4 separate regions of the Homo sapiens genome follow, and all the other regions are linked to region 1. Evidence: fine-mapped expression QTL. A gene starts in region 1. Each other region holds a variant in brackets. All regions are shown on one strand. Distances are between the middles of the regions.

Region 1 (7,607 bases):
CTCAGTGGTCCTGCCTGGAATCCTCAGAAAACACCCCGTGCCAGCCAAGCCTAGCCCCGACCCCGGCACTGCCCCTGGCTCCCACTCTAAGGCTCTTGCGCATGTGGTTCCTTCCACCTTGAACGCCCTTCTGTGTGAGCCCAGCATCCTCAAGGGCTCCCTTCAGGCAGGCCCGGGTCAGACCCCCCTCCCCATCCCCTCTAGAGGCCTTCTGCAGAGCCTGCTCTGGGATCCTCTTGAGTTCACACCTTTGGTTTTGCTGCTCAAGGTCATTACTTCCTCAGGAAGACCTGGTTCTACCCCTTACTTGTGACTGAGCATGTCATGTTACTTCTCTGCTGTGCCTCAGCCTCTCCATCCAGAACCACCTCACAGGGACTTTGCGGGAACTAGACAAGCCAATGTTTGTGGAGCATTTAGCACTTGGAGAAAGCCCCAGAAAGGGGGCTGTTATGCTAGGGCATCCCTGAGCCTTGGGAGAATGCCCTTCTCGCTGTTCCTTTGCAAACTGGGCATTCTTAGCCACTCGGATGGGCAAACTTCAAGAGGGGCCATCTGAGCTAAATAAACCGATCCTCTCTGCATCATTGTGAGCCCTGGGAACCACGTGAGTGGCCCAGTGAGTTGGAGGTGGGGCTGGGGTCAAGGACATGAAAGAAACATCAAGCGACTGAGCACCTACTGTGTGCCAGGCTTCCTGCATGTTACCCAAGAGACAGGAACCCTAGTCCCTGTTTTGCAGGTGAGGACACTTTGGTTTAGAAAGAACCTGAGTTCCTGCCTCCAAATGGGAAAGGAGATTTAGACAGCAGAAGACAGCTGCTCAGGGGCCAGCATTAGTGGGTCTGGTCTCAGAGGACCACTGTCCAGGCCTGTGTCTCCAGTGTGGAGTGACAAGCTGGCACCAACCTGGTGGCCAAAGGCTCTACCCTGGAGAACACTCTTTGACTTGCAGGCCCTTTTTATTTCCCTGTTGTCCTCCAGGAGAGCCCAGGTAATGAGCCTTAGGGTGAGCCATGCGGCTGATTGCACCACCCAGGGGATGAGGAGGCCACACCAGGGCTGAGAGGGGACAGACCACACAGCCCCTCCCATCCCAGGCCTATCCTTTCTCGGGGCCCATCAAATCCAGGAACACTTCCCCGCCACTGACCACTGACCCACAGTTTTCTCATTTACTTCCCACATAGGCCCAAGCCATAGAGGAGGAAATTGAGGCTAGGAAAGGGAAATGACTTGCCCAAGGTCAATCCCAGAGTAGGGAGGGCAGGCCCTGCCAGGTGCCAGTCTCAGGGGCCAGGGCGGTGCACTGAAGGCTGCATGTTCACAGGAGATCAGGTTCCACCCGAGGGAGCTCCTGACCAGGCAGCCCTTTCACAGCCACCTGTGAGTTCTCTCAGCTCTGGAGGGTGGGGCTGCAAAAGAACTGCAATGCGCCTCCTGCTGCATAAAGGACAGTTATCCTCCTGGGGTCAGACGTCGAGAGCCCAGGGCGGTGCCTTCCAAACCCAGACCCGCAGCGTGCGGGTCCGCCTGAGGGGTGTGAGGGGTGTCTGCTCTCTGCTGCTGAGGAGGCCCCACTGTCTTCTCCCAGCCCTGGTGTGGCCGCCCCTGTCCCCATCCCCCTGAGGTGACGTGATCAGGCTCTACTAGGGCTCATCTCCCAGGATGGGAAGGGCTGGGGCTGGGCCTGGGCGTCACCGGGCTACCTGTCCTACGAAGTCCAGTGACCTTCGCTGAACCCTGCTGCGAACCTCCCTAACGCCTTCTCTCACCCTCTGCGGAGAGCTCAGGACTCAGTTCAGCCTGATCGAAGCCAAACATCCCCGTCCCTTGGAGCGCTGCGCAAGGGCAGCCCCACAAGGGCCACAGCGCGGTGCACTCTGAGGCCCCCAACCCTCAGGGCCGAGCACTCCCATTGGCTCTGGGTGACGTCAGAGCCGGCCCCGCCTCCAGGTAGGCGCAGGCGGGAAGCACTGCGGCAGCAGGGGAGGGGGCTGTGGCGGCTCCTCTCGGTCGGTCCGTCTCCCCTCGCCTGTGACCTTGAGCACTGGAGGGGAGTGGGGCTTTGAGCCGGGCTTTGCGCCGGTGTGGGAGTTGGTGCTGGTGGTGCTGTGGTTCGGCCTGTCAGCCGCATCAATAATTCAGGGGACAGGGTCTGCATGGGCGGGCAGGTGCTGACGTCGTCACCTCCGTGCGTGCGGGGTGACCTATCGTCTGCGGAACCGGCAGGGCAGGCGTGTGGGGCCCGGGGGTGGGGGTGAGTCTGCCCCTGCCTCTCCCTCCTGAGGAAGAATGGGGCCGGGGTACCTGATGCCCCGGCGAGAGGAGGTGCCCTGGGCTCCACCTGGGGTCCCCTAGCCCTGCCAGCTTCACGGCTCCAGCGTTGCCTTCCCCCACCTACAAAATAAGGCAGGCAGGCAACCCCTCCTCGTTCCTCCCCAGCAGGGACCCCTGCCTGAAAGGCTGTCATTCCTGTGTGGCCCAGACCTCCTTGCCTCTGCCCGGCTGGCGCAGCAGAGCCCTGGGAACTGTGAGGTGGCTCCTAAGGAAGAGGCCGCCTGTCCTTCCCATCACACTGGCGCAGCCATCCAAACAAGCTAGACGGCCGCCCACTGGGACGGCAGCCCCTGCACGCACAGACCCGGCACGCACACTGGGCACACAGCCTCGGGGGCTCACCAAGGACACCCCCGCCCCCTGGCCTGATGGCCCCAGGCATCACCAAGGCAGACACCATCCAAGCGCACACCAGAGGGCACACGGTCAGAGGGACATGCAGGCACTAGCGCCCGGGTCCACACGGGCAATGCAGCCAAGTCAGACAGTGCCTTCCACGTTCCATTTCCTGCAGATATGTCACCCACCCCCCAACCACACGCTCCCCCCAGCCCCTGCTATGGGCTCTGACTAGCAGCTGCCCCCAGCCACTCCTGCAAACAGGATCACCAGGGAACCTGGAGCACTCTGGCCGTGTCTCAGTGACCCCAGGGTGAGGCTATTTGAAGGCCGGGCTGCCACCAGATGTGGGTTGAGGGGGGCACTTCCTCCCTGCGGTGGGTCATAAGGATGCACCATCCTCCCGGCCCACCTTGATGCCCGCAGCGCCCTCACTCACCCCATCCCAGCACTCCGGCATCTTGCCGAGGGAGGGAACCCGCCTCTACCAGGAAGGACAAACAAAGGCCTGAGTCACTCGGGTCCAGAGGGCGGGGGCAGCTCGAGTGGGAGATGGTCGGCTCTGTGATGGGGCACAGCTCCTGGGCCATTTATACAGGGATCCTGGCCCAGCCTAGCTAGCCCCTCCTCCCCGCAGGGTTTCTGAGCAGCCACTCGCTTACCAGGAGCCCCAGCTCCCATATTGGCTGCTGGGAGACAAGCCTGGCTCCAATTGGCTTCTGAAGTCCTCCTTGCCCCAGCCCTGTCACTGCTCCTCCCACCCCAGCCACACATCATCCTTGATGGTCCCCAGCCCCTGCATCCGCCCCCAGCACATAGGCACACGCCAACAGCTGCAGCTCACACGGGATCCTCCGAATACAAAAGCCGAGACCACACGTACAGACTCACCCATGTCAGGTACACACAGGGTCGTCACAGACATGCACAGCTTACCAATGCGGGGCAGGGCAGGGTGCATGGGCACTGCCCAGACAGCTAGAGCCCTTGACCCACACCTTGGGGAGTATGGAGGGCCCGAGAGGGCCCCAAGCCCAACATCTTGGGGACCAGACCCCCACGCCCAGCCTTCCCATTAGGAAGGTTCCATCGCTTAACCTTGTGGAGGCCTGGGGAGCTGCTGCTTTCTGGGGCAACTTGGGTTATCACCCTGCTTCAAGGGGCTGCTCCTTCTCCACCCACCAGGGATGAAAATCCCACCTTGCCCACGCAGATACAGGGGGTTTCCCCACATGCTGAAAATGGAGTTTGGGGGCCGGGGGCCAGGGGCCCTGGGCAGATAGCAGGGCCAGGGGTATGGTCAGGCACACACCAGCTCTGCCCTCCCCACCCTCACCCTGCTGCCAGGGGCTCCAGACCACCAGGGAGAGGAAGCGGGGCTAGGAGGCAGCTTGCTGACATTGACATGCCCACCTCCTGTAGACCCACCCGGCCCTCGTTCCCAGAGGCAACCAGTTTGGGGCTTGGCTCTCGGGTCTCTGGGGAGCAGAACACTAGGTCTATCTCAGGCTCCGTGCCCTGTTCTCCTGGGCAGCAAGGATCTGGGTGGCGAGCTCGCCCGAGGCCTGCAGGTGGAGTGAGCAGAGGAGAAGAAAGGCCAAGAAGTGCACAGGAGGAGAGGAAATAGGCCAGAGAGGGAAGCAGAGGAGGGGGCCCAAGGCTGGGAGAGCAGGAGCCACAGAGAGAAGGGGGCTGCTGCGTGCCTATGCTCCCAAATCCATGAAGATTATATGTATTATCGTTGCAACTGCCTGTGCAGTAGGCACTGCTGTTTCTCCCATTTATATATGGAGGCTCAGAGAGGTTGACTGACTTGCCCAAGGTCACACAGCAAAGAAGTGGCAGACCTATGAGTGGGATCAGGGTTTGGCTGGCAAGACCTGACCCTGCCTTGTCTGGCCACGATAACTGCACAACTGCCAGAAAAGGGGCCAACAGTTTGGAGAGGCACACAGACTGCCCCATTTCTCTCCTGCCAGGGCCTGGGCAAGGGTGGGGTCAGGGCACAGAGCCTGAGATAGCCCTAGTGTCCTGCTCCCCAGATACCCGAGAGCCAAGCCCCAAACTGGTTGCCTCCAGGAACAAGGGCCGGGTGGGTCTACAGGAGGTGGGCATGTCAACGTCAGTAGCTGCCTCCTATCCGGCTTCCTCTCCCTGTCTTGCTGAAGAAGGAACACGCCACTCACCCCAGCCCATGCTGATGGCCCTGCATGCTGACTGGCTGCCCTTGGAGAAAGTGGTCATCTCTTCATCTCTGGGTACCTGCTGACCTGGTCGACACCTGCTATGTACACTATTGCTGGTCATGTCCTCTGCCTGGGGGCACCTATTCCATCTCTCACCTCTTACTCTGGAGGCCTAGGGAAGACTGACAGGCCCTGTGCTCCCCAGGGCAGCAGGAAGTAGAATGGGGAGTCCCCCTGGCCCGTCACCTCCTGGCCATGCTCCCCATTCCTGCAGGCACTGTGGCACAGGAAGAGGCTTGGAAAACTGAGGCACAGCCCTGCCCTCTGCCCACAATGCCCTCCCATGTCCCCCAAGGCCCCACCCAATCCTACGCCCACTCCAACCTCTGACCCCTGAGTGGCCTCTCCCCACCTTTGGACCCAGGTGACAAGCTGACCTGCGACACTGCCCACTCCAAGCCACAGCCTCCATGACTGCTCAGCTGTCTGCAAACCCACAGACGTGGGTTTAAGTCCTTCCTGGCCCCCTACCAGCCGGGTGACCTTGGGCAAGATTTTTTTTTTAACCTCTCTGTGTCTCAGGCTTCTAATTGTAAAGCAGGGACTGTGTGCCTTTCTCACCAAGCTGCTGTGAGAATCAGAAAAAACTGCAGAAATCACTCTAGATCTGACCCCACCCCTGCCCAGGTCCTGGCAGGGGAGAAATGAGGCAGCCTGTGTGCCTCTCCAAATTGTTGGCCCTTTTTCTGGTGGTTGTGCAGTTACAGTGGCCAGACAAGGCAGGCTCAGGTCTTGCCAGCCAAACCCAGGTCTTGCCAGCCAAACCCTGGTGCCACTCATAGCTCTGCCACTTCTTTGCTGTGTGACCTTGGGGAAGTCAATCAACCTCTCTGAGCCTCCGTATGTAAATGGGAGAAACAGCAGTGCCTACTGCACAGGCAGCTGCAAGGATAATACATATAATCCTCATGGACCTATGAGAAGGGATGAGGAAACTGAGAGTTGGAGAGGTTAGGTAATTTCCTCACTTGGCTAGTAAGCAGCGGCAGCTACTAGTACCCCAGCACTCTGGGTGGGCCTGAGGTCTCAGAATCAAGAGTGGCAAACACTATGTTCAAATGTCCTCCATGTGCCAGGCTTTCTTGGAGTGCTTTACCCATTCTCTCTATCCCTCTTTTTTTTTCTTCTTCTTCTTTTTTTGGAGACATGGTCTTGCTCTGTTGCCCAGGCTGGAGTGCAATGGTGCAATCTCTGCTCACTGCAACCTCCGCCTCCCGGGTTCAAGCCATTCTCCTGCCTCAGCCTCCCAAGTAGCTGGGACTACCAGCGCCTGCCACCACACCTGGCTAATTATTGTATTTTTAGTAGAGATGGGGTTTCACTATATTGGCAAGGCTGGCCTCAAACTCCTGACCTCAAGTGATGCACCTGCCTCAGCCTCCGAAAGTGCTGAGATTACAGGTATGAGTCACCACACCCAGCCTTTATCCTCTTTTTGGAAAATATTTTTAAGTATGGAAGGCTTCACGAATATGTGGGTCATTCTTGTACAGGGGTCGTGCTCATCTTCTCTGTATCATTCCAATTTTGGTATATGTGCTGCTGGGGCGAGCACTCATTTTCTCTCTTAATACCCTCTTTACAAATGAGGCAAATAAAGCACAGGGAGGTTTGGTAACCTGCCTAACATCACACAGCTAGTGGGCACAGAGCCAGGAACCACACCCAGGCAGTTTGGTGCTAACTCCACACTCTGGTGGCCACTCGTCACGGTCAGCTGAGTGTCCATATGAGGGGCCCATGGGCACCATCGCCTTAGAAACACTCGGGAGGTCCGTGCTGCCTGTCTCCCTGAAAATGCGGTAGACAAATGGAGTGACTTGGGCTGGAGGTCACATGCTTGGAAGTGGCGGGGCCAGAACCTAGGTCTGTCTGGCTCATGTTAGTCCCTCTGCTATACTACCTCCCCCACTGGCTGCCCCCACGGAGGCAGGGGACAGTGACAACGCCTGCCATAGTGAGCAGGAGATAAAATCCCTGCCAGGTCTTGGCCCAGATAACGACCATCCATTCTTGTGGCTGCTTTTCTAAAACAAAAAACGAAAAAAATGCTGCCTCCATGTGGTGTGACAGGAGTGGACAGGAAGGTGCCTTTTAATGCAACCTGCCTTTTACCAAGCAGAGGATCCTGAGAACCGGGGTCCCACACACCCTGGGCCCCGCAACTCCGGGGCTGCAGCTCAGAGGGCTCAGGGGCCAGAGGCAGCTTCGCAGCAGCAGTTGGGAACCCAGAGGTATGGTAGGGTCTCCTCCACGACTCCAGGATTCCCCTCTGCCTGTCCCCCACACCGTGGGCCTGTGTGCTGGGGCTGGCATCAGCACTGTTGGCGTCGGCCTCCCACACTGTGGGACCAGTGTGTTGAGGCACCGGCTGGCTGCTCTGAGATTTTACTTGGCCAACCCCCTCCTCCAGGGCCCATTTGCCTGCATAGCTCATCCTCATTTGCAGCATGGAGGACAAAGAAAATCCCCTGGTGAGCCTGCCCTGATCTCCGGCTGTCCCTTCCCACCAGCCTGGGCCAGCTCCCGACCACTTCCCTCCCATCCCACCTCCTGGGCTCCCATTCACTCCCCACTGCCGGAACCCTAGCCTCTCCTTCCAGCTCCAGAGCCCTTTGTGCTTGGAGATGGCATTCCCGGAGGATCTGAGCACATGTACATTGGCTGCCCTGAAGTCTCCCC
Region 2 (7,607 bases), 69 kb after region 1:
GATAATTGGGGGGGATGGGTCCTGGTCAGGAGGGATGGGTGCTGATCAGTCAGGGGATGGCTGCTGGCCAGGAGAATGGGTGCTGATTCATGGATGGGTGCTGGAATGGACTGAATGCAGCAGTGAGGGTGAGCTGCGTGCCAGCCCCAGTCTTGCCTGCCTCGCTCACTTGCCTGAGGTCATGAGACCAGTACCATGGAAGAACCAGAACCTGAGCCGGGGCTGATCGTGGAGCCCTGACCTTTAGTCACCCTTACTTCAGAATAGACAGCCCAGGCTTCTGGGCAGCACAGTAATTATGGGAACTGCCAGTTATTTGTAATCTCACACTGACAGCCTGCTGGGAGGGGACCCACTCAGACTCGCCTCCTCCCAGCCATGTGACCCTTGCAGCCCGGGGAGTCCTGGGAGTGGGGGTGTGGGTAAGGGTGGGGGATGAGGGTGTTCTCTGTTCTTAGGCCAAATGGAGAAAGGCGGGAAGCCAGAGCACATTAGGCCAGCTTTCCTTGTGGGCAGCGGCTCTGGCCAGCCCTTGCAGACTCTCCCTGAGGGCACTGTGAATGCCTTTCCTGGGCTGCAGAGACACCTGATGGTCCCCCCACAGCACATCCCAAGGGGGTTGTAGGTACTTACGGCATTGAGAGCTCTGACCAGTTCAAGACCCTGGAGCATTTGACTCCCAAGTTTGAGCTAGATTATTCTGACTCCAGGCCACAAGGCACTAAGGAAGCAGGAAGCAGTGAGGCGTCCAGGTCCAGGTTCTAAATCCTAGCTGTAGAGACAAGAGCAACTCCATTTTGGATGCATCCCTAGGTTTGACTTCTGATTAGCTTAGTCCTGTGAATGCCTCCTTGTTTCTACTTTATTTCCTGTCCCTAGTGTAAGAACACGTCAACCTTGATGTTATCGCACAAATTGTGGGCTGTGACACACACAGTGTTCTTGCCTGTTCTGGAGGGGTGCCTGTAATTTTCTTGCTGGAACACATGTACCCTTTCTCTATGGTATACAAGCCTGAGGTCTTGGGAGTAACAGTGGGAGATCTACCTGTATTATGGCCACCCAAGACCACGCTTCTGTCTGTGAGTTCCCCCAATAAATCATCCAATACTGACAAACAGGATTTGTCTGCCTCCTTTGTTTCTTGGCTCCTTTGGCATTTGGGGATCGCTTTGCACATATGGCTCCGTGATAGTTAATACTGAGTGTCAACTTGATTGGATTAAAGGATGCAAAGTATTGATCCTGGGTGTGTCTGTGAGGGTGTTGCCAAAGGAGATTAACATTTGAATAAGTGGGCTGGGAAAGGCAGACCCACTCTTAATCTGGGTGGTCACAATCTAATCCGCTGCCAGTGAGGCTAGACTATAAAGCAGGCCAAAAAAAAAAAAAATATATATATATATATATATATATATGTGAAAAGACTAGACTGTCCTAGCCTCCCAGCCTACATCTTTCTCTCATGCTGGATGCTTCCTGCCCTCAAGTATCAGACTCCAGGTTCTTCAGTTTTGTGACTTGGACTGAATCTCCTTGCTCCTCAGCTTGCAGACAGCCTATTGTGGGACGTTGTGATCATGTGAGTTAATTCTTAACATATATATATATATATATATATATCCTATTAGTCCTGTCCCTCTAGAGAACCCTAACTAATATAGGCTCTTTCACGGAACACCAGCTCTGCACATATCGGCTGTGGGAGATCTTTAGCCAGTCACTTGGCCTGCCTGGCCCTTGATTTTCTCATCTGTAAAATGGGGATAATAATAACACCAATGCTTCCGGGTGGTTGTGAGGATTATATAGGACAATGCAAGTGGGACCCTATGGAGGTTTTGAGACCCATGTGGTCCAGTCTCGGGGTAGAGTCTAAAAGAACAACAGCCCATTGGAATTCCAGTGAGTGCTCATGTCTCCTGAAGAACATGATGGGGGTCTAGGCGTATATGCCACAGCCACTCTGGGCTCATCACCGTCCTCTGTAACACATGCAACTCCCATAAGATGCTTATCCTCCTCTACAGAAAATCTCCTTCTTCTACTCATGTCTGCTCCACCCCTGCCACCTTGCCAGGCCTCTGCCCTGCAGCCAGGGGCCCAATTACAGAAGGCAGCACTCATAGCATGTTCAACGGGTGAGTCTGCACAGCAGTCCTGTTGCCACCTGCCATGAGGTGTACTGCCTTTGACCTTGCTTCCTCGGGACAGTTCTTTCCCCTTCTGTCTCTCAGAACTTGTCTGGCAGTGGCAAGATGCTTTAGGGAGGGCGTGGAAGCAAACAGTAGGCAATGCCAGAGCCCTCTTTAGTGGGCCTGGGACAGCTGGGAACATTCCCACCTTCATACCTGTGCTTCTATTACACATGGGAAGCATTCAGCACAGGTGCAAGCTCTTAGGTGGCATTTTTAGAACTGCCCAACGTAAAAACTCTGCTGCAATTTTCTATCTAGGCCGAGAGTCGGCTTGAGAAATGCATCCAGTCAAAGATGAAAGAACTTGGAAGGAAGCAGTCTGGGCTGCCTTCCCTGCCCCTGCGGAATGGATTAGCCTGAGTGGCCACACACAAACAGGACAGGCTGGGTCTTGATGTTTTCCAGGTGACAGATCAGGGTACATCTGCAAACCTTGACTGAACTAAGTCGGAGGAAGGATCAGGACAAGCAGCCCAGTGGCAATGTTTTGAAACCAGTAAGCACCCAGGCAGCAAGGCCCTGGACATGGTGCAGCCTCGTTCCCCAAGGCTGAGAGCTGCAAGCCCGAGAGCTGCCTGGGAGGCCAGTCAGTAAGGGGCACCATGACATATTGGAAATGCCATGAGAAGGAGGCAACCATATGAATTAATCAGAGCTCTTCTCAGGGAAAGCCGTGTGTGGGGTAGGGAGGGGTGCTTTGGTGAGCCTCTTGGAGTGAGGGAGGAAAGATGGCAAGGATGTGAGTAAGTAGTCATGACAATTGCTTGCTGGACCCTATGGCAGGTGGCTGAAGAACGCCAGGGCTTCTGTTTTGCTGAGTTAGGGGCTCAGGACAGTTGAGGAGAGGCTGGACCTTGTACCAGCCCCTCCTTCTGCAAGCTCTGACTCAGGGACAGCCTCTTACATGCCCATTAAACATCTGGCCCAGGGATACTAGTTTCAGGGTTGCCTGTCGAGGTACTCCGCAGTATCACCAGGCTCTGGCTAAAGGAACCAGTGTCTCTGGGCCTTTGTTACCAGCTTCATTCTGTCTCCTGGTAGAAGGTGCTTGTTATGAGTTGAACTGCATCTCTAAAATATATGTTGAAGTCCTGGTGTGGTGGCTCATGCCTGTAATATCAGCACTTTGGGAGGCTGAGGTGGGTGGATCACCTGAGGTCAGGAGTTCAAGACCAACCTGGCCAACATGGTGAAACGCTGTCTCAACTAAAAATACAAAAATTAGCCAGGCACAATGGCGCATGCCTGTAGCCCCAGCTACTCGGGAGGCTGAGGCTGGAGAATTGCTTGAACCTGGGGGGTGGAGGTTGCAGTGAGCTGAGATCACACCACTGCACTCCAGCCTGGGTGACAGAATGAGAATCCATCTCAATAAATAAATAAATAATAAAAAATATATGTTGAAGTCCTCACCCCCATATCAGTAAATGTGACTTTATTTTGGGAATAGGAATTTTGCAGATGTCATCAATTCAAGAAGAGCTCATTAGGGTGGGCTCTAATCCAATATGACTGGTGTCTATAAAAGGGAAAATTTGGCCACAGAGACAGCCATGCACAGAACGAAGAGAGCACGGTGACACACAGCAGAAGACCGTGTGTGACGATGGAGGCAGAGATCAGACTGACGCAGCTGCGGCCAAGGAAACCACCAGAAATTAGGAAGAGGCAAGGAAGGATTCTCCCCTAGAGCCTTCAGAGGGAGCGTGGCCCTGCTGACACCTTGATTTTGGATTTCTAGCCCCCAGAACTGTGAGAGAATAAATCGCTGTTGTTTTAAGCCACCTAGTTTGTGGTGTTTTGTTACGACAGCCACAGGAAAGGAATCCAGTGCTTCTGACACAAGAGTCGGGGAGCATTGTCCAGAAGCGTTCCTGTCTGGTAACGCACCTGCCATTGGCCAGAGTAAAGCCTGCACACAGAGCCCGTCCATGAGGAGGTTCTACAATGCACAGCCTGGTAAATTCTGGAGCCGATGACCCAGCCTCGGTTCCTGTCTGTAAAAGGAGGGGCCGGGATGGAATTAGCCCTCTTCAAATTCTAACTTGTTTCAGTTTTGTAAGACCTCCTATTCCTAGTCAGGACATAAAGACCCAAGGGACTGTCAACCATTGAGAGCTTGCTTGCCCTATACTGGGCGGGGTCCTAGGGGACTGATGGGGGCGTCTGTCTCATGGGAATGCAGCCTGTGGGCTCCCAGGACACCTCCTCT[A/G]CCTGCACTGGAGGAAGCTGGCAGCATCCAAGTGATATTTTGGTGGCTTGGCTGCTCTGGAACTAATGACAAAATAGAATTCCCAACATTAAACCAGTCCCTGCTGAGCTGGACTGTCCTATGGAGCTTTCCTGTATAAATATCCCTTCTGATCAAGGTGCGGTGGCTCACACCTGTAATCCCAGCACTTTGGGAGGCCGAGGCAGGCGGATCGTTTGAGGTCAGGAGTTTGAGACCAGCCTGGGCAACATGGTGAAACCCTGTTTCAACAACAACAACAACAACAAAAATTAGCTGTGTGCCTGTAGTCCCAGCTACTTGAGAGGCTAAGGTGGGAGGATCACTTGAGCCCAGGAGGCCGAAGCTGCAGTGAGCCAAGATCGTGCCACTGCATTCCAGCCTGGACGACAGAGTGAGACCCTGTTTCAAAAAAATAATAAAAAATAAAAAATAAATATCACTTCTTAGGCGTTAAAATCCCTGAGGTTGAGCCATTTCTGATATGGAGGCTTTTACCCTCTCTATTATTTATGATGTTATTTCTATTCACTTTCTTTTTCCCTATGAGATTTAAGGGCCAAATCCACCTGCTCTTTCCATTCTCCAAAAACTCATGGAAATGAAATGGCAACAAAGAACTACTCAGTAATTTGACACTGAAGATTCTCATCTCTCCCCATTTTACTTAGACAATGTGAAATTTAGGAGGGATAAAAGTAAAGTTCTGCCCCAATGTCAAAAACAAACCAATGGCACGAGAATAGGACAGCAGAGGCGTGACTGAAGACTGAAGCGCTCAGGTCATTTCTAGCTGAATGAGCACAGCTTAATGTGCAGTTCCCAAGGATGCTGATCAAACCCAGCAGAATGCTTACTATGCACGGGTCAGCAGTGTGTGGACAGGCAGGTCGTTCTGGGATTGACATTTTGAGAAGGTCATAGAAATATTAGACAGCAGCTGGAGGGCAGTGAGCGGGATGGAAACCGCTGTGTGTATGAGTGATGGTGCATGAATTTAGAAAATGAATTTAGTCTTTGAGCCAGTGCTTTGGTCTGAAGGTTTACATCTCCCCCAGCTGTCGTGACAAATTCATATCACCAAAGTGATGGTATTAGGAAGTGGGGTGCTTTGGGAGGTGATGAGGCAGAGCCCTCATGGAGGAGGTCACAGAGAGCTAACTAACCGCTTCCACCATGGGAGGACACAGCCAGAAAGTGCCATCTATGAACTAGGAAACAGCCCTCACCAGACAAGGAATTATTGTCATCTTGATCTTGGACATCCCAGCCTCTAGAACTGTCAAATGTAAATTTCTGCTCTTTATAAGCCACCCAGGGTATGGTGTTTTTTATAGCAGCCTGAACAGACTAAGATGCCAGCAATTTCATTTCTAGGTCTCTGGCTCAGTTTGCATCTTATTGTGGCGATAACAAATCACAATAACGAACTGGGCAGGCTAAGGAGCACAAATTCATAACCTCATAGTTCTGGAGGACAGAAGTCCAATGGGTTGGCAAGGCCACAATCCTGGAGGCTACAGGGAAGACTTCATTTCCTCGCCTTTTCCAGCTTCTAGAGGCCTCCTTTGGCTTGTAGTCCTTTCAACAATGGCATCACTCTGGCCTCTGCTTCTGTCACTGCATCTCCTTCTTCCCTTCTGCTTCTGCATCACATGGCCTGCTCTGTGACTCTCTTGCCTCTCTCTTACAAGGACCCTTATGATTATAATGGGCTTACCCCACAATCCAGGATCACCTCCCCCCACCTACCGCAAGAGCCTTAATTTAAGCACGTCTGCAAGTCTCTTGTCATGCAAGGTAACAAATTCACAGGTTCTGAGCATTAGCATGTGGGCATCTTTGGAAGGCCATTATTCTGTCCTCTACACTTGCCTACAGAATACACAAGTGTGCAAGGATGTAGGAACAATCATCTCAAACAATGAAAACACAGAGACAGCCTAACATCTGACAACAGGGTTCTGGTTGGATAATGACGCAGCCATTCTATGGAATATCACACAGCCATAAAAAGATGGAGGTAGGTGACATGGAAGGATGTCCACGATGTATTATTTATTTGTTTATTTATTTTGAGACAGGGTCTTACTCTGTTGCCCAGGCTGGAGTGCAGTGGCGTGATCTTGGCTCACTGCAACCTCTCCCTCCTGGGTTCAAGCGATTCTCCCACCTCAGCCTCCCGGGCAGCTGGGATTACAGACTTATGCCACCAAACCCAGCTAATTTTTGTATTTTTTGAAAGAGACGGGGTTTCACCATGTTGGCCAGGCTGATTTCGAACCCCTGACCTCGAGTGATCCACCTGACTCAGCTTTCCAAAGTGCTGGGATTACAGGCTTGAGCCACTGTGTCCGGCCCATGATGTATTTTTGAATAAGAGATAATTTTCAGAAATTCATAATTTATTTGTTCAAGAAATGCTTTCAATGCCTACTATGTGCCAGGAGCTGAGAACACACCAGTAAGTTAAACAGGAAGAATTCATATTCACTTTCTAAAAACTGTATACAGAAATATGTGTATGCATGGGGGAGAAAAGTCTTACCTGGAAAGTAAATGGTAAGTTGTTAATAGTGATTCTCAGGAGAGGAAGAGTGGGGCATGGAGATAGTGAGGATTTGCTAGGTTTATTTTGATGTTTTCATATGGTTTTATCTTTTCAACAAGCACTTGTTATTTCTGCTAAAAACGAAATTGAACTAAGGTACAGTTATCAAGACAAATTATTATGTGAACTCTAACTTCTTGATGATAAAGCTGTACCAATCTGCAAAAGAGAAAGAAGGAAGGAAAGAAGAAGAGAGGGAAGGAAGGAGAGAGAATGGAGACAAAGAAAAGGGGAAAGGAAAGGAGGAGAAAAAGAACAAGCTGATAAGTGTTAACTTGGAGAAGGGAAGTCTTGAGGGGCACTTTGCCAAGGCTCTTGTGGTTCAGAGTGTCCCTCCGTCCCCTGCAGGAACTGGCAGCTCCTCCAGATATATTTCTTTCTGTCCTCTCTTTGGGCACCTGGCCCTGTGCCTGTGCACAGTAGGTGATCAGTGACATATTGTTGACAAGCAAAGCAACAGATGGAAATGCTGGTAATAGTGGAGAAGCCACTTCATCAAGCCAGGGCGCATTTTTGACCCCCTAAGCCATCAGGCACATTTACCAGCCTCAATTTTTTCTTTTCTTTT
Region 3 (7,607 bases), 70 kb before region 1:
GGTCTTTAATTTTTTTCTTTTTTTCTTTCTTTCTTTTTTTTTTGAGATGGAGTTTCACTCTTGTTGCCCAGGCTGGAGTGCATTGGCATGATCTCGGCTCACTGCAACTTCTGCCTCCCGGGTTCAAGTGATTCTTCTGCCTCAGCCTGCCGAGTAGCTGGGATTACAAGTGTGCACCACCATGCCCCACTAATTTTTGTATTTTTAGTTGAGATGGGGTTTTGCCATGTTGGCCAGGCCGGTCTCAAACTCCTGACCTCAGGTGATCTGCCACCTCAGCCTCCCAAAGTGCTGGGCTTACATGTGTGAACCACTACGCCTGGCCTCTTTAATTTTTTTCAGTGATATTTTTTCATTTTCAGTGTACATCTTGTACTGATTTTGTTAAATTTATTAATTATTTTATTTATTTAACTTAATTTTTTTTTCTTTTTTTTTTTTTGAGACAGAGTCTTGCTCTATTGCCCAGGCTGGAGTGCAGTGGTGCGATCTTGGCTCACTACAACCTCTGCCTTGCAGGCTCAAGTGATTCTCCTGCTTCAGCCTCCCAAGTAGCTTGGACTATAGAGACATGCCACCCCTCCCAACTAATTTTTGTATTTTTAGTAGAGATGGGGTTTCACCATGTTGGGCAGGCTGGTCTCGAACTCCTGACCTCAAGTGATCTGCCTGCCTTGGCCTCCCAAAGTTGCTGGGATTACAGGCATGAGCCACCACGCCTGGCGTTAACTTAATTTTTGTGTGTGTGTGTATGTCACCCAGGCTGGAGTACAGTGGCATGATTATGGCTCACTGCAGCCTCCACCTCCCCCCTCAAACTCTGAAGTAGCTGGCATTACAGGTATGCACCACCATGCCCAGCTAATTTTTTATTTTTTGTAGAGACAGGATTTCACTGTCTTGCCCAGGCTAGTGTTGAACTCCTGGGCTCAAGGCATCCTACCACTTTGGCCTCCAGAAGTGCTGCGATTGATTACAGGCATGAGCTACTGCACCTGGCCTATCTTTGTAGATCTATCTATTATTGAAAGTGGAGTACAGAAGTATTCAATTTTTTTTTTTTTTGAGATGGAGTTTTGCTCTTGTTGCCCAGGCTAGAGTGCAGTGGCATGATCTCGGCTCACCGCAACCCTCCGCCTCCTGGGTTCAAGTGATTCTCCTGCCTCAGCCTTCCAAGTAGCTGGGATTACAGGCATGCGCCACCACGCCTAGCTAATTTTGTATATTTAGTAGAGATGGGGTTTTTCCATGTTGGTCAGGCAGGTCTCGAACTCCTGACCTCAGGTGATCCGCCCGCCTTGGCGTCCCAAAGTGCTGAGATTACAGGTGTGAACCACCACGCCCAGCCCAATTTTTTTTATTTTTAATTTTTTATTTTTCTGAGACAGAGTCTGCCTCTGTCCCCCAGGCTGGTGTGCAGTGGTGTGATCTTGGTTCACAGCAACCTCCGCCTCCTAGGTTTAAGCGATTCTTGTGCCTCAGTAGCTGGGATTACAGGTGCTCACCATCACACCCAGATGATTTTTAAATTTTTAGTAGAGATGGGATTTCACCATGTTGGCCTGGCTGGTCTCAAACTCCTGACCTCAAGTGATCCACTCGCCTCAGCCTCCCAAAGTGCTGGGATCACAGGCATGAGCCACTATGCCCGGCCTCCTATTATTTTAACTGTCTTTTTCTCCCTTCAGTTTTGTCAGTTTTTCCGTCAGGTGTTTGGGGCTTTGTTTTTAAGTACATGTGTTTTTATAATTGTTACATACTTCTTTATTTTATTATTGTTTTTGAGATGGAGTCTTGTGTCTCGCTGTGTCACCCAGGCTGGAGTGTGGTGGCACTGTCTTGTCTCACTGCAACCTCCTCCTCCCACGTTTCATTGATTTTCCTGCCTCAGCCTCTGGAGTAGCTGGAACTACAGGCGTGCGCCACCATTTCCAGCTAATTTTTTTTTGTACTTTTAGTACAGATGGGGTTTCACCATGTTCCCCAGGCTGGCCTTGAACTCCTGACCTCAGGTGATCTACCCACCTTGGCCTCTCAAAGTGCTGGGATTATGGTCATGAGCCACCGTGCCCGGCCTTAATGGTTACATATTTCTGATGGATTGACCCTTACTGTAAAATGTCTTTGTCTCTATTAACAGTTTTTTTCTTAAACATTTGTTTTGTTTGATACTAGTATAACCATTATAGTTCTCTTATGGTGGTTTGCTTGGTATATTTTTGTTTTGTTTTTTGTTTTGTTTTGTTTTGTTTTTCTCAAGCTATATGTGTCTTAATTTGAAGTAGGTCTCTTTTAGAGAAGGTATGGTTGGAGCATGTTTGTGAATTTGTGTTTGTGTTTACTACATTCTGCCTGTCTTGCATTTAATGTATTTATTGATAATATAGGGCTCTTTTGCTGTTAATCTTTCTATCTCTTGTCACTTTTGTTCCTCTGTTCTTCCATTACTGCCTGTCTTACTGTTAAATAGATATTTTGTAGTGTACCATCTTAACTCCTATGTTTCTTTGACTTTATTTTTTGTTTTGTTTCTTAGTGGTTGCCTTGGGTATTAAAACTAACATTTTAACTTACTCCAATCTTTTAGTTTCGGTAGGATCCAAAAATTTCATTTAGTATGGCTTTGTCCCCTTCCCCTTGATTTTTGCCATTATTGTCATGCAAATTATACCTTTATACATTATGTGATCACCAAAAGGTTTATAATTCTTGCTTCATGCAGTTATTTTTTTGAGACAGGGTTTCATTCTGTTGCCCACGCAGGACACGATCACAGCTCAGTGCAGCCTCAACCCTCCAGACTCAAAGCGGTCCTCCCAGGTAGCTGGGACCACAAACATGTGCCACCACACCTGATAAATTTTTTAATTTTTTGTAAAGTTGAGGTTCTCAGTATGTTGCCCAGTCTGGTGTCGAACCTCTGGGCTCAAACTGATCTCCCGTTTTAGCTTCCCAAAGTGTTGGGATTACAGAAATGAGCCACTGCACCCAGCCCAGTTGTTCTTTAATTAGGAGATTTATACTGTCCTTTGTATTTACCTGTGTATCTTTGCCAGTAGTTTTTCATACGGATTCAGGTCAGTGTTCAGTGTTTTTTCATTTCAGCCAGGATTCTTGAATTTTTCTTGTTTCAGCAGGACTGCTAGCAATGAATTACCTCTTTTTGTTATCTAGGGAATATCCTAATTCCTCCTGTATCTTTGGGGATAGCTTTGCCAGATGAAGGATTCCTGGTTGGCATTCCTTTTCTTTGAACATTTTGAATATGCTCCCCCACTGCTTTCTGTCCTCCATGGTTTCTGATGAGACATCAGCTGTTAATTTATTGAGTATTGTATGTGATGAGTTGCTTCTATCTTGCTGCTGGTAAGATACTCTCCTTGTCTTTTTTCTTTCATCAGCTTGATTATGTTATTCTAGGTATGAATCTCTTTGAGTTTATTCTACTTAGAATTTATTGAATTTCTTGGGTGTCTAGATTAATGTTTTTAATAAAATTTATCGGGTTTTCAGTCATTATTTCTACAAATCTTTCCGTACCTTTTTCTTCTCTCCTTGTACTCCCATTATGTTTGTGGTGGCACACTCAGTAGTGCTCCACATGTCCTTGAGTTCTCAGCCCCCATCCCCCCACCCCCTTTTTTTTCATTTTCTCAGGCTGGATAATTTTAATTGATCTATCTTCAAATGAACTATTTTGTCTGCTTGAATGTGTGGTGGGAC[ATG/G]TGGTTAGTGAAACTTTATTACAGTTACTGTACTTTTTCTGTTTGGTATGTTGTAGAGTGTAGTATCTGATGGGAAAAAACGAATTTCTGTTTTTTGGTTTTTTTTTTTGCTAATTTCTATGGACATGCTTTTTGAGATAGTATTCCTATGTTTTCCTTCAGTTCTTTTGATATATTTTCTTTTAAACGTGTTCTGTAGTGGCTGGGTGTCATGGCTTCAGCCTATAATCCCAGCAGCACTTTGGGAGGCCAAGGTGGGTGGATCACTTGAGATCAGGAGTTTGAGACCAGCTGGCCAACATGGCAAAACTCCGTATCCACTAAAAATGCAAAAATTAGCCAGGCATAGTGAAGGGCGACTATAGTCCCAGCTACTTGGGAGGCTGAGGCAAGAGAATTGCTTGAACCCAGGAGATGGAAGGTACACTGAGCCGAGTTTGTGCCACTGCACTCCAACCTGGGCAGCAGAGTAAGACTCTGTCTCAAAAACCAAAATAAAATGAAAATAAATGTGTTTGGTAACTGATTTGAATTCCTTGTCTAGTAAGTCCAACAGCAGTGTTTCCTCAAGGATCATTTCTACATAGCTTTCCAGCCCTTTGCATGGGACACCCTTTTGTTTCTTTACAAGTCTTGTAATTTTTTTGTTGAAAACAGACAACTTTAAATAATATGGCATTTCCTGGAATCAGATCTTCCTTCTTCAGCAGAGCACATTGTTCGTTATTGCCCTTTTTTTGTTTAGTGACTTTCCTGAACTAATTCTGTTCTTTATAATAGTTGGCTACTGAAGTTCCTGCTTGGTTAGCCTTGTTGTCAGCTAAGATTGACGAGATTTTCTTAAACCTAATCTTGGGAATCAATTCAGCACTAAGCCAGGCAATTCACAGCCACCTTAGTCTTTACTTCCAAAGTTTTTTTTTTTTCTCTCTTTTTTTTAAAATCGAGACGGAGTCTCGCTCTGTCGCCCAGGATGGAGTGCAGTGGCACGATCTCGGCTCACTACAACCTCCACCTCCGGGGTTCAAGCGATTCTCCTGCCTCAGCTGAGTAGCTGGGATTACAGGAGCATGCCACCACGCCTGGCTAATTTTTGTATTTTTAGTAGAGACAGGGTTTCACCATGTTGGCCAGGATGGTCTCGATCTCTTGACCTCGTGATCTGCCTGCCTTGGCCTCCCAAAGTGCTGAGATTACAGGCTTGAGCCACTGCACCCGGCTCAAAGTTTTTCTTTACAGATTTTTTTTTTTTTCTTGAGATGGAGTTTCGCTCTTGTTGCCCAGCCTGGAGTGCAGTGGCACAATCTCGGCTCACTGCAACCTCCACCTCCTGGGTTCAAGTGATTCTAATGCCTCAGCCTCCCGAGTAGCTAGGATTACAGGCATGCACCATTACGCCCAGCTAATTTTGTATTTTCTTTAGTAGAGACAGGGTTTCTCATGTTGGGCAGGCTGGTCTCAAACTCCCGACCTCAGGTGATTCGCCCGCCTCCCAAAGTACTGAGATTACAGGCGTGAGCCACCGTGCCCGGCCTTCTTTACAGATTTTTAGTTAGCCTGTATGTAGTTTGCTCCAACTGTAGTAGTCTTCCACCTCAGATAGGCAATAAGTTTAAAACAGTTACTTTCAAATGTTTTTTGTAAACACCTCATGCAGAAAAGGTTTTTGTTTGGGTCAGTTTTCAGGTCAAATAAATCCAACCTTGTCATTGTGTTCTCACACAGACTCCCTATACAGATGAAATAATGACAATTCACTGAGAAGGAGGCTTTGAAGATGTTTTAACCCTGTTTTGATTCACCTCTCAGGCTTCTGGTTTTCATTGTGATTGAGGGCTGTCAGCTTCTAAGCTGGCTGTGGAGCTGGAGATGGGAATAATAGGGCAAATTAATGTGCTAGAAAACTTGATAGTCTCTTGAATAAAAATTTCCCACTTGTTATAAGCCTTTGGTTAACTTCCAAAGTTCTGAAAAAGTTGATTCAGACACTTTTCTAGTTGCTTTTATGAAGGAGAGGAAGTCAGCCCATACCCTGTCGTTTTGCTTTATGAGAAGGTTTTTTTTTTTTTTTTTGAGATGATGTCTTGCCTCCAATTACCTGGGATTACAGGTATATGCTACCATGCATGCCTATTTTTTAAATTTATTTTTATTTTTAATTTTCTGTGGAAATGGGGCTTCACCATGTTGCCCAGGATGGTCTCAAACCCCTGAGCTGAGGCACTCCTCCTGCCTTGGCTTCCGAAAGCGCTGGGATTACAGGTATGAGCCACCACGCCCGGCCAGCATTATTTCTTTTTGTTGTTGTTTAAATAGTCTCACTCTATTACCCAGACTAGAGTGTAGTAATGTGATCATGGCTCACTCGTGGGCTCAAGCAGTCCTCTCTGCATCCTAAAGCGCTGGGGTTATAGGCATAAGCCACCTATGCTCAGCCTTTTTTTTTCTTTCTTTCTTTTTTTCTTATGAGGTCTTACTGTGTTGTTGTACAGTCTGAAGTACAGTGCATGTTCACAGGCACAATCATAGCTCAATGCAACCTTGAACTCCTGGCTTAGTCTTCCTGCCTGAGCCTTGTGAGTAGGTGGTCCTATAGACGCATGCCACCATGCTTGGCCTGATGGTCTTTTTGGCTGTTATAATTAGAGAGAAACGTGCCTCTAATACCTAGTAGTGTAGAAACCAATGATACTAGGCTGGGCGCGGTGGCTCACAGCTGTAATCCCAGCACTTTGGGAGGCCGAGGGTGGGTCACCTGAGGTTGGGAGCTCAAGACCAGCCTGATCAACATGGAGAAATCCCATCGCTACTAAAAATAGAAAAATTAGCCAGGCGTGGTGGCGCATGCCTGTAATCCCAGCTACTCGGGAGGCAGAGGTTGGGGTGAGCCAAGATCTTGCCATTGCACTCTGTCTGGGCAACAAGAGTGAAACTCCGTCTCAAAAATAAAAAAAAGAAACCAATCATACTGGCTAAACATTCCACAGTGCACAAGACTGCCTTGTACAACAAATAATTATCCATTCCAAAGCACTCTGCTCTATAAGCTCTAAATGTTCTACAGTTTCAAGTTCTAAAGTGTAACCTTTTACATTTATACATTTTAATCCATCTGCAGTGGAATATTCTGGAAAGTTAATTGCCTGTTAAAATTGCGCAAAATGTTTTTATTGTAAGAAGGCAGTTTACCTAACTTCCAGGTTTCAATTAATTTCTTTAATTGATCTATTAGCAGTACTTGTTGAAAAATTTAATAAGATAATGTATCCAAAGTATTTTGAGTCCATACTGATGATAATAAATGCCAGAGAAGGAAAGTTATTTCAACTAATAAATATAGAAGAATTACGATGGAGTTGTAATCTTTAATGTGTGTTAATAGTAATGGATATATGTTTGAAGAGCAGGATAATTATGTAGTTTGAAAATATCTCTCCACAAATTACATTGTAATTACAAAGGGGGAAAACAACTTCAGAAAAACCTGTCAGATACCATGTTAGTCTACTGATCAAAGTGATCACCATCTGAAACCTACATCATGTGTTTCATAAAATGCACTGAGAAGAATACAAGGTAATTTATTCTGTAAGGTTATAATACCTAATTTGAATTTAGAACATCAGACAAACTCAAATCAAGGGACATTCTACAAAACAACTGACTTGTACTTTTTTTTTTTTTTGAGGCAGGGTCTTGCTCTCTTGCCCAGGCTGGAATGCAGTGGTGCGAACTCGGCTCACTACAACCCCTGCTTCCTGGGTTCAAGCAGTTCCCTCAGCCTCCTGAGTAGCTGGGACGACAGGCGCACACTACCACACCTGGCTAATTTTTTGTATTTTTGGTAGAGATGGGGTTTTGCCATGTTGGCCAGGCTGCTCT
Region 4 (7,607 bases), 160 kb after region 1:
ATTCAAGGGCAGCCCTCTGTAGAGAAACGACCCTGGACTCAGTAAGCAGCAAGGTTTAGGGAAGCACACAGCCCCTGAATGATCAACCTGGCGGTCGCTTGCCTTGTATTCTTTTAGGAGTTAAAAATCTTTCTGAAAGGTGCTGGGTGAATTGTGCCTTTGTGATTTGTTTGGTGGTGCTCTGAAAATTCCTTGTCTCCGTTCCTAATTTTAGAGCCAGCAGCTGTCACTGCTTTGTTCTAACAAGTCAGTAATTTTCCATTCTCCTTGCTTCCTTGGATTTCCTTTCTATATCTAATCACTCACTCTGCAGGGGCTTCTAACTTGGTCTTCTCACTTAAAAATTTTTATTATTAATTTTTAAATTTATAATTGGACCTTGTCATTTCTTTTAAAACCCCAAAGAAGGATGTGCATGTCACATATTCTGTCATTTGGTGTTTTGTTATTTCTGTAAGTTAGTAATTGCTTTTATTTTTGTATTTTTAGTAGAGACGGGGTTTTGCCAAGTTGGCCAGGCTGATCTTGAACTCCTGACCTCAAGTGATCCTCCCACCTCAACTTTCCAGTGTTGGGTTTACAGGCTTGCCCACCGCGACAGGCCTAGTAATTGCTTTTAAAAAGTTAAAGTATTACCTTTTTATTTTACCTGTATACATTGTACTTATACAAACCTTCTTACAGTGTGTGATAGACATAAAGTTTTATCATAAAATGTTATGGCATTCGGTGTTTTGTTTGTTCGTTTGTTTGTTTGAGACGGAGTCTCGCTCTGTCGCCCAGGCTGGAGTGCAGTGGCGCGATCTCGGCTCACTGCAAGCTCCGCCTCCTGGGTTCACGCCATTCTCCTGCCTCAGCCTCCCGAGCAGCTGGGACTACAGGTGCCAGCCACTGCGCCTGGCTAATTTTTTTTGTATTTTTAGTAGAGACGGGGTTCACTGGGTTAGCCAGGATGGTTTCCATCTCCTGACCTCGTGATCCGCCCGTCTCGGCCTCCCAAAGTGCTAGGATTACAGGCCTGAGCCACCATGTCCAGCCGGCATTCAGTGTTTCTTATCTTCATTGCGCCCAGCCGGCATTCAGTGTTTTTTATCTTCATTGCAGCAGGGTTGCTTTTGTTTGTTTCTTATTTGGCCATTTATTTATTTTTAGGATTCTATGGGTACCAACAGAATTCCTTGAAGGTGTTTTGCAGGTGGTATCATAACTTTATTTTTCTATTTTAATTTTGCAGTAGTCTGGGATTTGCTTCAAATTAATCCAGATGGAGGGGAAGGGGATGTAGGTTAATGAAACAAGACTGGCCATGGTAACTGTTAACGTGGATCGTGGGAGCATGGTGGTTCATTATACTACTCTGTCTACCTTTGGGTATGCTGGAAGTTTTCCATTATAAAAAGCTTTGAAGATCTTTACATCAAGATTATTTCTAATAATCTTCCTTTAATTAAGATAAACTCATTGTACAAATATTGCCATCTATAGGTGGAAAATATATTTGTTTTGATTTGGACAGGCTGCAACATCAAAAAAAGGAAAAAAATTATTGTAATCTTGATCTCTAACCTGACTCCGAAATATTATTAATGTTACTACTCTTTTCTCAAAACTCGCCATTAATATGAATCACTAGGTATAACGCACATAAATTTCTTTATGAATCTCTGTTCTATATATAGTAAAATTCATGTTTGAAAAAGGTCAAATTACATTTTAGTGTAAAGGCTCAGGACTTTTTAAAAAAATGACTTGTGATTTTTGAAGGTTTGAAAACTCCAAATCAGAATATAATTTAAAAATGTAGTTTTGACCCTTTACATATTTTTGATGACTTGAGAATGTATCTGTATTTTAAGTCTCATATTCGTGTGAACTTGACATTTTCACACAGGTCCACAGAACGGAAAGTTGCTGCTTTCAAATTTGGGGAAAATATAAGAGAAACTTCTTTAAATCATATACAGTAGACAAAGATACCTTATGAATACCAGAAACAGGTGACAAAAATAAATACCCTAGGGGTTAAGCAGAATGTTCTGGATATCGAACTTGAAGCTTATAAGCATTCTTTGTTTGTTTGTTTGTTTTTTGGTTTTTTTTTTTAGATGGAGTCTCACTCTGTCACCCAGGCTGGAGTGCAGTGGCGTGATCCCGGCTCACTGCAACCTCCACCTCCCGGTTCAAGGGATTCTCGTGCCCGGGTTCAAGCGATTCTCGTGCCTCAGTCTCCTAAGTAGCTGGGACTACAGGTGCACGCCACCACACCTGGCTAACTTTTGTATTTTGAGTAGAGACGGGGTTTCACCACGTTGGCCAGGCTGGTATTGAAATCCTGACCTCAAGTGATCAGCCCACCTTGGCTTCCCAAAGTGCTGGGATTACAGGCGTGAGCCACCGCGCCTGCCCGGCCTAAAGCATGTGATCATTCTGATACCAAGATAAGCACAGAGTTGCCATCAGAGCATATTTCAGGCCTCCCTTCCTGTCCTGTGGTTACAGTTGCATGTTCACTCAATCCTCCATTGTATTTTGAAGAGTAAATTGTACTCTACATAGTTGTTGTGTCTTTCAGATACAATTTATAATACAGTTGGGCCTATTAAAATTCCAAGAGTAACAACCTTTTCCAAGATGACCTTGCCCAACATTTTTGTGTTATTAATTGTGTCTGTAGGACCTCATCTGCCCCCTTCTGCTCTGACAAGATATTCTGAGAAGGACAGAGTTGCACTCAGTAACGAAAACATGTTACACGGATCCTGTAAGCCAAATCTATTGACCAGGAGAGTTGGGACACACACTTTCACATTTTCTGGAACAACTTGTACTTTCTGGAAAAACCTATATAACTGGCTGGCCCAGGCTCTCTTATTAGAATTTCTAATATTTTAGGGTGACAGCTCATTTTAAGGGACCGCATCACACTGTCAGACTGTCAGGGTCTTCTTGGGTGTGATACCAACAGCACAGGCAACAAAGAAGAAACAGGTAAATTGGGCTAAAATAAAAATTTAAAACTTTTGTGCATCAAAGGATGCTATCAACTGAGTGAAAAGGAAATTAATGAAATGGGAGAAAATGTCTGCAAATCATATATCTTAAAAGATGCTAATATCCAGAACATTTTTTAAAAACCACTGTAACTCAACCACAAAAAAACCAAGTAACCAGATTTAAAAATGGACAAAGGACTTGAATCAATATTTCTCTAAAGAAGACATAGACACATACCCGTTTAGCACATGAAAAGATGCTTGGTGTCATTAACCATTAGGGGAATGCAAATCAAAACCACAATGAGATACCACCTCATACCCATTAGGAGGTCTATTATAGAAAGAAAAGTAAACAGACAAACAAGCAAAAACCCAACACAGAATATAAGTGTTGATGAGGATGTGGAGAAATTGGAAGCTTTGTGGGCTGCTGGTGGGAGTGTGAAATGATGCAGCTGCTGTGGAAAACAAGATGGCAGTTCCTCAAAAAATTAAACATAGATTTACCATATGACCCAGCAATTCCACTTCCGGGTATATACCCAAAAGAGCTGAAACAGATTGGGACTGGAACAGACATTTGTAAACCAATGTTCATAGCTGTAGTAATCACAAATAGCCGAAAGGTAGACACGACCCTAGTTGAATGAATGGATAAACCGAATGTGGTTTATAAGCACAATGGAACATTATTCAGCCTTAAAATAGAAGGAAATTCTGACACATACTACAACGTGGATAAACCTTCAGGATGTTATGGTAAGTGAAATAAGCCAATCACAAAAAGGCAAATAGTGTATGATTCCACTAATATAAGGTACCTAGAGTAGTCAAATTCACAGAGACAAAAAGTAGGATGGTGGCTGCCAGGAGGGCTGGGGAGAGTGGGAATGA[G/A]GAGTTAGTGTTTAATAAATGCAGAATTTCAGTTTTGCAAGATTAAAAAGTTCTGGAGATGGATGGTGGTGATGACTGCCCAATTCTGTGAATGTGCTTAATGCTACTGAACTATACACTTAAGATGGTTAAAATGGTAAATTTCATGTCATGTAAATTTTACAACTAAAAATGAAATAAATTTAAAAATGTAAAATAACCTTGAACAAAATTTGCAAATAAAAAAAATTGTCTGGTTGTTGAAAAAGGACTGATTTTTGAGAGAGACAACTTCTAAAATAAATGTTACTTAATTTATTTTAGAAGTTAATACTTATCGTGTTAATTCTTATCAATTTTGAGACAATGCTTTTTAACAGCATCCTCAGAATTTCTCTATTTGCCTAGCAGTGTACCAGATACTGCTGTGGATGGTGTAGGTACATGAAAGATTAGCTTAGCCTTCCGGGAGAGACAATCTTGGTGGGAAAATAAGATATGTATATAAAAAAGTGAGTAACCAGAAAAGACTGCATGACACTAGGCTTCATATGAGTGTTAGAGAGAATAAGTTTAAGAGAGAAGAGAAGGCTGGGGCCGATGGCTTACGCCTATAATCCCAGCACTTTAGGAGGCCGAAGCAGGTGGATCACTTGAGGCCAGGAGTTCGAGACCAGCCTGGCCATCATGGGGAAACCCTGTCTCTACCAAAAACACAAAAATTAGCCAGTTGTGAGGGCGGGTGCCTGTAATCCCATCTACTCTGGAGGCTGAGGCATGAGAATCGCTTGAATCCGGGAGGTGGAGGTTGCAGTGAGCCAAGATCACAACACTGCACTCCAGTCTGGGCATCAGAGTGAGAGTGTCTCAAAAAAAAAAAAAAAAAGAAAGAAAGAAAAGAAAGAAAAAGAAAAAAAGTTCCATGGGGACAGGGCAGGGGGAATGAAGGGGGGGTGCTGTCTGGGGTGAAAAGGACCTAAAATTGAGAATTATGACAAATTTTGACATTGCTGTGAATTTATATCATGTAGTGCAGAAAGTAACAAATACCATAAGAAAGCCAAGAAGTAATAAAGAGAGCTAAACACTGGCACCTGAGTGGCCACGAAAATCAATGGGACAGACTAGAGGGCTCACAAAAACCCAAAAGATGATTTGTTTTTTGATAACATGGCATTTCAAATCAGTAGGGAAAAGGTAGATTATTTAATAAGTGGGTTGGAAAATTTTTATGTTGAATTCCAGTGTACTCTTCACACCCAAATATGTTCCAAATGGAGCAAAAATTTCAATACCGTAAAACCATTAAAAGTACTTGAAAAAATGTTAGAAAAAAAGAGTGTTTTTAAAATCTTGAAGTCAGGAATATTTTTCCAAGCTAGATTGAAAATCGAGGAGCCTTAAAGAAAAAGACTGATAAATTTTACTATAGAAAGGTTAAAACATATGCACGGGAAAAACTTATATCACAGATTTATGGTATAAACTATGTATTTATATATATTTAGAGACAGGGTCTCACTCTGTCACCCAGGCTGGTAGCCATACTCACTGCAGTGAGTTTGAGCTCATTGCAGCCTCAAACCCCTGGGCTCAAGCAATCCTCCCACCCCAGCCTCCTGAGTATCTTTGACTACAGGTGCATGCTAATGCACTCGGCTAATTTTTAAAATTTTTTCATTTTTATTTTAGAGACAGGGTCTCAAACTTCTGAGATTATAGGGATGAGCCCCTTTACTTGGCGTTAATTAAATATTTTTTTTAGGCTGGGCACAGTGGCTCACGCCTGTAATCCCAGAACTTTCGGGGGCCAGGGTAGGCAGATCGCCTGAGTCCAGAAGTCTCAGAATAGCCTGGGCAACATGGCAAAACCCCATCTCTATGAAAAATAAGAAAAGTTAGCTGGGTATGGTGGTGCAAGCCTGTAGCCCCAGCTATTCAGGAGGCTGAGGTGGGAGGATCGCTTGAGTCCAGGAGGTGGAGGTTGCAGTGAGCCGTGATTGCACCACTGCACCCCAGCCTGGGTGACAGGGTGAGACCCTGTCTCAAAAATTAAATAAATAAATAAATTTTTTTAAATGGCATGATCTATTTTAAAGAATTTATTTAATACATAACCAGTTCCTGTTAATTAATAAGGTCAACAAATCAATAGAAAAATGGACAAAGTGCAAGAATAAGCAGCCCCAGAAAAAGAAGCAAAAATGGCTTATGATGTCTGACTGAAAAAAAAAAGGCTGATAAACTCTTACTGAAAGAAAAAAATAGCATTAATTTTTTTACGTATCAGAACGGCAAAGATAGAGACGTCAATGATACATGCATGAGGGGGAAAGACACTCATATATCGACTGAAGAAACGAGTGGATTTGGGCTGTGGGCTGGGAAAGGTAGTTTTAATACAATTTTTTTTTTTTTTTTGAGATGAGTCTGTCTGTCGCCCAGGCTGGAATGCAGTGGCGCGATCTCGGCTCACTGCAAGCTCCGCCTCCCGGGTTCACACCATTCTCCTGCCTCAGCCTCCTGAGTAGCTGGGACTACAGGCGCCCACCACCACGCCCGGCTAATTTTTTGCATTTTTAGTAGAGATGGGGTTTCACCGTGTTAGCCAGGATGGTCTTGATCTCCTGACCTCGTGATCCACCTGCCTCGGCCTCCCAAAGTGCTGGGATTACAGGCGTGAGCCACCGTGCCCAGCCTTTAATACCATTTTTAATATGAGAGAGAGGAAGAAAGATTTTGAATGAGAGAAGTTCCAGCACTGTGTGGAAGGAAGACAGTCACCTTACTTGGGTTAATTGAGGGAGATCTCGTAGGGATGTTGTGGGGGAAACATTTAACTGGGGCTGGAAAAATGGGGAGGTTTTGAGAAGAAGAGAGGAAGAGCCTTCTGAGTTTGAAACAATGTCTAACTTAAATTCTACATTTTCTTTTTCTTTTCATTCTTTTTTTTTTTTTTTTTTCTGAGACAGAGTCTTGCTCTGTCACCCAGGCTGGAGTGCAGCGGTACGATCTTGGCTTACTGCAACCTCTGTCCCCTAGGTTCAAGCGATTCTCCTGCCTCAACCTCTTGAGTAGCTGAGATTACAGGCACATGCCACCACACTCAGCTAATTTTTGTATTTTTAGTAGAGACAAGGTTTCACCATGTTGGCCAGGCCAGTCTTGAACTCCTGACCGCAGGTGATCCGCCTGCCTCGGCCTCCTAAAGTGCTGGGATTACAGGCGTGAGCCACTGCGCCTGGCCTAAATTCTACATTTTCAAAAACTGAATCAAGCTGGGAGGTTGAAAAGCTCTTTTATTAAACAGAGTAGGGCCATGAAAACAACAGAATATTCTAAAATCTCAAAATTCTTTTGGCTTTCAGATCACAGGAAGTAAGTTCTGTGAGCAGCCAAAAAAAGAACTCTCTGGGGACTTGGTCATAAGAAGTTCCAAGGCAATTTCCGATGTGCATGGTCCCTCCAATCTTGATCCCTTGGGATGCAATGGGAAAAACTCCTAACTAAATACCAGATCAGCTGCCTCTAGCCACAGCTGTGCTACCAAAGGTGGCACAGGCAACTCACCAACCCCCGCTTCTGCAAACTGAGGGAACTGGACCATCCGAGCTCTGTCCTTTCCAATACCAAAATTATCCATTGTGGCCTTGACCACCTGTTGTCAGGGCTAGAGCAGAAACAGTGACTGTGGTTTTCCCGGTGGCAACAATGTGGAGTGCAATCCAGATTTGAGGA

Which allele goes with the higher level. Positions count from the first base shown, and alleles are read on the strand shown. Sizes are in standard deviations (SD) of each study's normalised expression. Not every link is listed here.
As copies of ATG replace G in region 3, the expression in iPS cells of the gene that starts at base 3,245 in region 1 goes up (moderate effect, 0.70 SD a copy in HipSci).

The links. PIP is the estimated chance that this variant, and not a neighbour inherited with it, causes the effect. A credible set is the group of variants that fine-mapping cannot tell apart.
Region 2: its variant is the best candidate, but not a certain one, in a credible set for the expression of NDRG4 in atrial appendage (GTEx, PIP 0.52).
Region 3: its variant is the best candidate, but not a certain one, in a credible set for the expression of NDRG4 in iPS cells (HipSci, PIP 0.73).
Region 4: its variant is the best candidate, but not a certain one, in a credible set for the expression of NDRG4 in unexposed skin (GTEx, PIP 0.68).

The regions. Positions count from the first base shown.
Region 1 is chr16:58,495,781-58,503,387 of GRCh38, reverse strand. It overlaps NDRG4 (NDRG family member 4), which reads right to left and starts at 3,245. Exons shown (of 15, transcript NM_001242835.2): 1 at 3,119-3,245. The coding sequence starts at 3,139. It also overlaps the pseudogene RNU6-103P. RefSeq lists enhancers at 1,294-1,343, 936-1,752, 1,753-2,570, 2,571-3,387, 6,646-7,201 and 1 more and silencers at 3,267-3,326, 3,337-3,416.
Region 2 is chr16:58,426,975-58,434,581 of GRCh38, reverse strand. All of the region lies in intron 1 of LINC02137 (long intergenic non-protein coding RNA 2137), which reads right to left. Among named protein-coding and RNA genes, the nearest start is that of LINC02137, 9.5 kb to the right of the region's middle. The variant A/G (reference allele first, on the strand shown) is at 4,411.
Region 3 is chr16:58,565,743-58,573,349 of GRCh38, reverse strand. All of the region lies in intron 16 of CNOT1 (CCR4-NOT transcription complex subunit 1), which reads left to right. Among named protein-coding and RNA genes, the nearest start is that of SNORA50A, 9.6 kb to the right of the region's middle. The variant ATG/G (reference allele first, on the strand shown) is at 3,724.
Region 4 is chr16:58,339,615-58,347,221 of GRCh38, reverse strand. No RefSeq gene overlaps it. Among named protein-coding and RNA genes, the nearest start is that of PRSS54, 48 kb to the right of the region's middle. The variant G/A (reference allele first, on the strand shown) is at 3,891.